Homo sapiens: one gene and its partner. Changing the gene in region 2 together with the main gene of any one other region gives a genetic interaction. Each region holds a gene or a part of one and is shown on either strand. Other genes may lie near its edges.

Evidence for each region. A genetic interaction does not mean that the proteins touch.
Region 1: changes in CDKN1A (region 2) and CDC25A together harm fitness more than expected from each alone (negative genetic interaction), as found in Homo sapiens cells (one large-scale study listed by BioGRID).

Annotation. Positions count from the first base shown.
Region 1 is NC_000003.12:48,157,418-48,160,917, forward strand, and holds part of CDC25A (M-phase inducer phosphatase 1), read right to left. Parts: intron 2,039-3,500; coding exon 1,927-2,038; intron 1,669-1,926; coding exon 1,528-1,668; 3' UTR 1-1,527. UniProt on the Homo sapiens protein: Tyrosine protein phosphatase which functions as a dosage-dependent inducer of mitotic progression. Directly dephosphorylates CDK1 and stimulates its kinase activity. Also dephosphorylates CDK2 in complex with cyclin-E, in vitro.
Region 2 is NC_000006.12:36,681,714-36,684,772, forward strand, and holds part of CDKN1A (cyclin-dependent kinase inhibitor 1), read left to right. Parts: intron 1-2,383; coding exon of another isoform or gene 2,384-2,388; coding exon 2,389-2,833; coding exon of another isoform or gene 2,834-2,932; intron 2,933-3,059. UniProt on the Homo sapiens protein: Plays an important role in controlling cell cycle progression and DNA damage-induced G2 arrest. Involved in p53/TP53 mediated inhibition of cellular proliferation in response to DNA damage.

The DNA.
Region 1 (3,500 bases), on a different chromosome or scaffold from region 2:
TAACACAGCAACTAGCCATCTCCAGTATCACTGATTCCCACCCCAAGAAGTTGAGGTAAGAGGGGAGAGACTGTCTCCTGTTTAAGAAAAACCCACCTACACCTCAGTGAAGCCGTGATGGTAAGGAGGCTGGCACCAGAGGGCAGGGATGAGTAGGCACTGAAACAGGTCTCTCTAGAATCAATGAAGTCTGCCCCAGCTCCTTGGATGAGGTGTTCTTTTGAAATTCCCACTTTTATGGAGTTAGATAAGGGGACAACCGGTGATGATTCATCACTCCCTGTCTCTAAAATTAAAACATGATAAACCCAGAAAGTTTTACCTTCAAAATCCACCAAGCTCCCTCCTGAGAAAATTCTATCCAGTCATGTCCATGCCAGCACCCACTCCCTTCTCCTAATGCCCAGGGCTTCCAGCCCCTCTCCTCACCCTTGGGTGGTCCATCCAACACTGATTTGATACTCTTTGACTCATAATATGACCATTTTTTAAAAATTAGAAAATAAAAGCTATCAATATCACAGCAACATAAGGAAGATACTCAGTGGACATGCTCCTCCCCCATCCTGTGGAGCCCACCTACCCCCACCCCCCTTCCCTGGGAAACCTACACTGCAACATTCCAGCACTGAGCCGGGGGTGGCCCAACAGATGCTGCCTCAAGTGCTTTCCTGACTGTGGCTCCTATACCAGCCAATGTCATGGAACTGGGGTGAGGAAGAACAGGGCCACACCTCCCACCAAATAGATATCGGTAGCCAGTGGTGGGTCTGGGAGATTTAGCTTATGTCAGGCAGCCAAGCCTGGGTCCAACGCTCTCACCAGGACCTCAGTTCTTGGCTTAAATAGCAGCAGCCCCAGTACCACAGCGCCTCCTGGGGGTGACAGAGCACCTAGCTTTCTGTCCGATAACTTATAACAGGTTTGCATTTTCTTACCCACTTCTTTTTTTTTTTTAAATTAAAAGCCGAGGTAGTCCCTGGGATAATAAAACCCTACCTAGAATGGCAGTATTTCAACCTAATGAAGCAGTAAAATAAGTCTCCAGGAGTTAGAAAAAAAAATAAAATAAAGTGATTGATGAAGTTGAATAAATTAAACATATGGATTATCCCACAAAGACCTTTCCTTCCCAGGTTGTCTTTGCTATTTGGCCAGCAGCATTTCTGTGTAACTTCTCTACTCCCCTCCGTCTCCTCTCCCCTCATGAGATGGCTGGAGCCCGATAAGGCCCCGGCTGGTTCATCCCACTGTGGCTCAGAGCAGCTTGACACGGTGCTCAGAACTGCATTGTGGCACAGTTCTGATATGGACGGAGGACGTCTAACAGGGACAGAAGAGGCGTAGCCAGCAAGATGCCCTGGGCTCCAACCTTGGGAGTGTGGGAGGTAGGTTTAAGGCATGGAAGTCCCAGGCCCCCTCTCCAAATGTCACACAGCTGTCCCCTTTGCTTAAGTTTCTCTGCAGCAAAGAGGGTAAAGGGGGATGGAGGGAAGCTTGGGCTGCTGCTGGCTGGTCCTGCCGCCCTCAGAGCTTCTTCAGACGACTGTACATCTCCCTCTTGCTCTTCTCCCCTGCCCAGGTCCGGCTCTTGGTGCGGAACTTCTTCAGGTCTTCTTTAAAGTCCTCGTGGTGCATGGGCCGGTAGCTAGGGGGCTCACAGTAAGACTGAGGGGACAGGAGAGAATAAGGTTAGGGTACACCTGCCTCACACCCACAACCTGGTTTCCTCTCTGCCTAGGGCTACAAGGCTGAAAGCGGCCAGGCAGACCTAGGGAGCCAGTTCTACAGGGGCTTTCTTTGGGTTCAGCAGATACCCACCTTGTCCCCCGACCCCTGGAAAGAAAGTCATGACCACCAGACAGATCCATTAGTCTACCACTGGGGGCAGGGGAGGAGAGATGCTCTCCACAACCCCAGTCTTACCTGGCATTTCATAAAGAACTCCTTGTATCCCCCCTTCAGGACATACAGCTCAGGGTAGTGGAGTTTGGGGTATTCATTACCCAGGCGATCTCTCTCTCTCACATACCGGCACCTAGTCAGGGGAAGGAAGGCCAAAGCAGGGTTAGCTTTTCCAGCACAGCAACAAGGCAACGCAGTCAAAGCAGCAGTTGTGGTCTAAGTCCCCCTTATACACATCTTCCCAACTTGACATTTATTCTTAGAAACAATCAGTGCTGAGTTGCAAGTTCCTGGCCACATGAGCAGCACTCACAGCCAGTGCCAGTAGATGGTCTCTTCCCCAATTTTCCTTTCTCCAACAATCCTAGCATCTGAGTCCTGCCCAGCACCTTCACCACCACAGTTTGTGGCAAGTTTTCACTATATGAGCCAGCTTCCCCTTGCTTTCTCCACCCCAGCCTTCTCTTCAGCCAGGCTCCCTCACTCACCTCCTTCTACATAAGTGGGCTTGTTTCTTTCTGTGGCTTTTAAAGAGGCTGAACTTGCTCCTGCCTCGGGGCCCTGTTTCTATCCTCTACTTGGACTGAATGGTCTTCAATATCCAGCCAATGGCTGCTTACTGCCTCGCCCTTGGTGAAAAAGCCCGAGGCCCCAAGTCCTTCAGAGGCCTACAGCTCTACAGGCCCCTACTGCTGCTCTGCCCCTTGTTCACCCCACGCCAGCCCCTGCAGCCCCACTACTGTTCCTCCAGCCTGCCTGGGAGCTCCACCACTGGCCTTATTTTCCTCTGAAGCACCTTCTTTTTTCTGAGACAGAATCTCACTCTGTCACCAGGCTGGAGTGCAAGGGCGTGACCTCAGGCTCACTGCAATCTCCGTCTCCCGGGTTCAAGCAATTCTCCTGCCTCAGCCTCCCAAATAGCTGGGACTACAGGCGCGTGCCACCGCCCAGCTGATTTTTGTATGTTTAGTAGAGATGGGGCTTCACCATGTTGGCCAGGATGGTCTCGACCTCTTGACCTTGTGATCCACCTGCCTTGGCCTCCCAAAGTGTTGGGATTACAGGAGTTAGCCACCGCACCCAGTCACCTTTTTTTTTTTTTTTTTGAGATGGAGTCTCACTCTGTCGCCCAGGCTGGAGTGCACTGGCGCGATCTCGGCTCACTGCAACCTCTGCCTCCTGGGTTCAAGGGATGCTCCTGCCTCAGCCTCCAAAGTAGCTGGGATTACAGGTGTCCGCCACCACGCCTGGCTAATTTTTGTATTTTTAGTAGAGACGGGATTTCACCATGTTGGCCAGGCTGGTCTCGATCTCCTGTCCACTCCGAAATGTAAGTTCCATGAAGGCAGAGATTTTTTGGTCTGTTTTGTTCACTGCTCTTCTCCCTCAGTATCTAGAAAGGTATCTGGTACACAAGAGCCAAGAGTATCTGCTGATTTTCTCTTGAAGCTCAGTGGTTTGGGGCCTTTGTTAGCTGCTCATGAGGGATGGGCAGCAGCTTCCTCTGCAGCACGTAGCTTAAACCATTTGCCTGTGGTTAAAAGGAGTTTGGCTGGGCGCGGTGGCTCACACCTGTAATTCCAGCACTTTGGGAG
Region 2 (3,059 bases):
TCCCGAGTAGCTGGGACTACAGGTGCTGCCATCATGCCCGGCTAATTTTTTTTTGTATTTTTAGTAGAGACGGGGTTTCACCGTGTTAGCCAGGATGGTCTCAATCTCCTGACCTCGTGCTCCGCCCTCCTCGGCCTCCCAAAGTGCTGGGATTACAGGTGTGAGACACTGCACCCAACCACCCAGCTAATTTTTATTTATTTTTATTTTTAGTAGAGACAGGGTCTCAGCTAGTTGCCCAGGCTAGTCTTGGACCCTTGGGCTCAAATGATTCTCCCACCTCTGCCTCCCAGAGTATTAGGATTACAGGCATAAGCCACTGCCCCTGGCCTCCCCAAGTGATTGTGATGGGCCTCTCTGGTTAAGAAACCTCAAAATTAGAGAGGGAGTGGGGTTCAATACTACAGCACAGGACTCAGGGCAAACAGGCCTGGGTTCAGATCCTGGCTGTGCCACTTATGAACTGTGTGATGTTAGGCAAGTTACTTAACTTATCTGAGCCTTGGTTGCCTCTTCTGTAAAAAGGGAGCTAATAGATATCCACTTTTTAGGAGGATTGATATTTTTAAACTGCTTAGAACAGCCCCCAAACATAAAAATATATAAATAAATCCCAACTCATGCCTAGCAGAGGGTGGATAGAGGTTATTTGAGGGCTCTGTCCACTGTACTGGGTGACCCCTTTATGGGGCAGTGGCCTTTGGCCTTTTTAGCTGTATGACTCAGGGGCAAGTCTCATATCTCTTCCATCTCCTGCCCTTTAAACTTGGTGTGAAGTTACCAAGAGCCTCCTCTCCCAACCAGCTGGGACGTGAAACTGTGGGCTCCACTGATCACAAGCAGTGGGGTGAGGTGGGGTGGAGCAGATGTGGCATGTGTCCCGGGCTTCCTGCCTCATGAGGACTCAGCAGAGCTTTCACCCCCAGAAACTGCAAGTTGGGACTTGTCCCTAGGAAAATCCAGTTGCTGCCAAGGTCGTGCAGTCACTCAGCCCTGGAGTCAAGCCAGAGCAGGCAGGTAGGTGCCAGGGCTCCCTCATGGGCAAACTCACTCTCCGTTTTCCCTCTCCTGAAGGGGGAGGAGAGGAGCCAGGTAGACCAGCCACCTTTAATTTTCTTTTTGCCTGCAAAACGGTTTCCTTGGACACAGGCAACACGAGGCAGGGGCTGCCAGGTGTCTAGACTTCAGATCACCTGATGTGCCTGGCAGGATGTGGCTCAGCCTGGGAGAAATCATCCCTTGCGCTGCCCCGCCCGGCCCCTCCTTACCCCTAGGCCACCCGCCTGACGACATCCTTGGGAAAGGCCCTCAGCCTACAGCACCTGTCAGCTGCTGTCTGAAGGAGGTAGTTGGCAGGGGGAAGTGATAGGGGGGAGGCTCAGTAAAACTGAAGGCAGAGAGGAATAATCATACTTCTGTTTTCAATGCACTTCTCTATACGAAGTGCTGCTGGCACGTTACCTACATTAACTCAGTTAATTCTCATGTCTATCCTCTGAGACAGTCACTATTACTATCCCCATTTTATAGATGAGGAAACTAGAGCTCAGACAAGTTAAGTTGCTTGCCCAGGGTCACCTAGTAAAACCTGGACTCCAGCCCAGGTGATCTGGCTCCAGAGCCCTCCTGCTTAACCACCAGGATACAGCCTTTCATTCAGCTCTGTTCTGTCTGCCTTGCTGCATGGACTCTGTGATCAATTTCTTGAGTATGTGTCTGTAGCCATGCTCTTTAAACTTGTACATGGCCCCATTTATGGATGAGGAAACTGAGACCTAGAGACATTAAGTGGCTTTTTAAAGCTTACGTAGTAACTGGCAGAGCTAGGACCACAACCCGGGTGCTTTTTGCCCCAAAGTCCCGGGTACTTTTACTTGGCAGAGCAGGGTTACCCTACTTGGGGATCTGGGTCGGGGGACTTAGGAGGCTGGAGGAACTGTCAGACTGTTTCTTCTTTTGGGAATTGACCTTCTGGCCAGGGCTGCGATTAGGAAACTGCTGGACTCTGGCAATTCACACATATTTGGGGGGCATTCACACCCATGAGGGACACCTCTGGGGGGAAAACAAATTGATTTTAGCTGATAATACCTGGTGGCAAACAGGACCCTGGTCCTTGCTCTTGCAATAGACTTGCCTTTGTTGACATTAGCTTGCCCTTCAGTTGCCTGCTCTCCCAGTGACCTTGGTGTGCCAGGCTGGCTGAGCTCTGCTGGTGGGGGTCAGGCCTCCTGTGGGAAGGAAGCAGGAAGACCAGCTGGAAGGAGTGAGAGAGACCCTCTGGTAGGAAGACGTCACCTGAGGTGACACAGCAAAGCCCGGCCAGGTAACATAGTGTCTAATCTCCGCCGTGACCAGGGCCTTCCTTGTATCTCTGCTGCAGGCGCCATGTCAGAACCGGCTGGGGATGTCCGTCAGAACCCATGCGGCAGCAAGGCCTGCCGCCGCCTCTTCGGCCCAGTGGACAGCGAGCAGCTGAGCCGCGACTGTGATGCGCTAATGGCGGGCTGCATCCAGGAGGCCCGTGAGCGATGGAACTTCGACTTTGTCACCGAGACACCACTGGAGGGTGACTTCGCCTGGGAGCGTGTGCGGGGCCTTGGCCTGCCCAAGCTCTACCTTCCCACGGGGCCCCGGCGAGGCCGGGATGAGTTGGGAGGAGGCAGGCGGCCTGGCACCTCACCTGCTCTGCTGCAGGGGACAGCAGAGGAAGACCATGTGGACCTGTCACTGTCTTGTACCCTTGTGCCTCGCTCAGGGGAGCAGGCTGAAGGGTCCCCAGGTGGACCTGGAGACTCTCAGGGTCGAAAACGGCGGCAGACCAGCATGACAGGTGCGGACATGTGCACGGAAGGACTTTGTAAGGGACCAGGATTCTCAGAATCCATGGTCCAAGGGCTGACCTGTCTGGTCCTGGTCCAGCATGCTCCAGGTAGAAGGAAACAGGCCCAGAGAGGGGAAGCAACCTCCCTGAGGTCACACAGCAAGTAGGCAGCAAAGACCAACTAGCTAACATTTATTGGGAATGTTCATTATGCCAGGCCCTTTGCCAAGCTTCT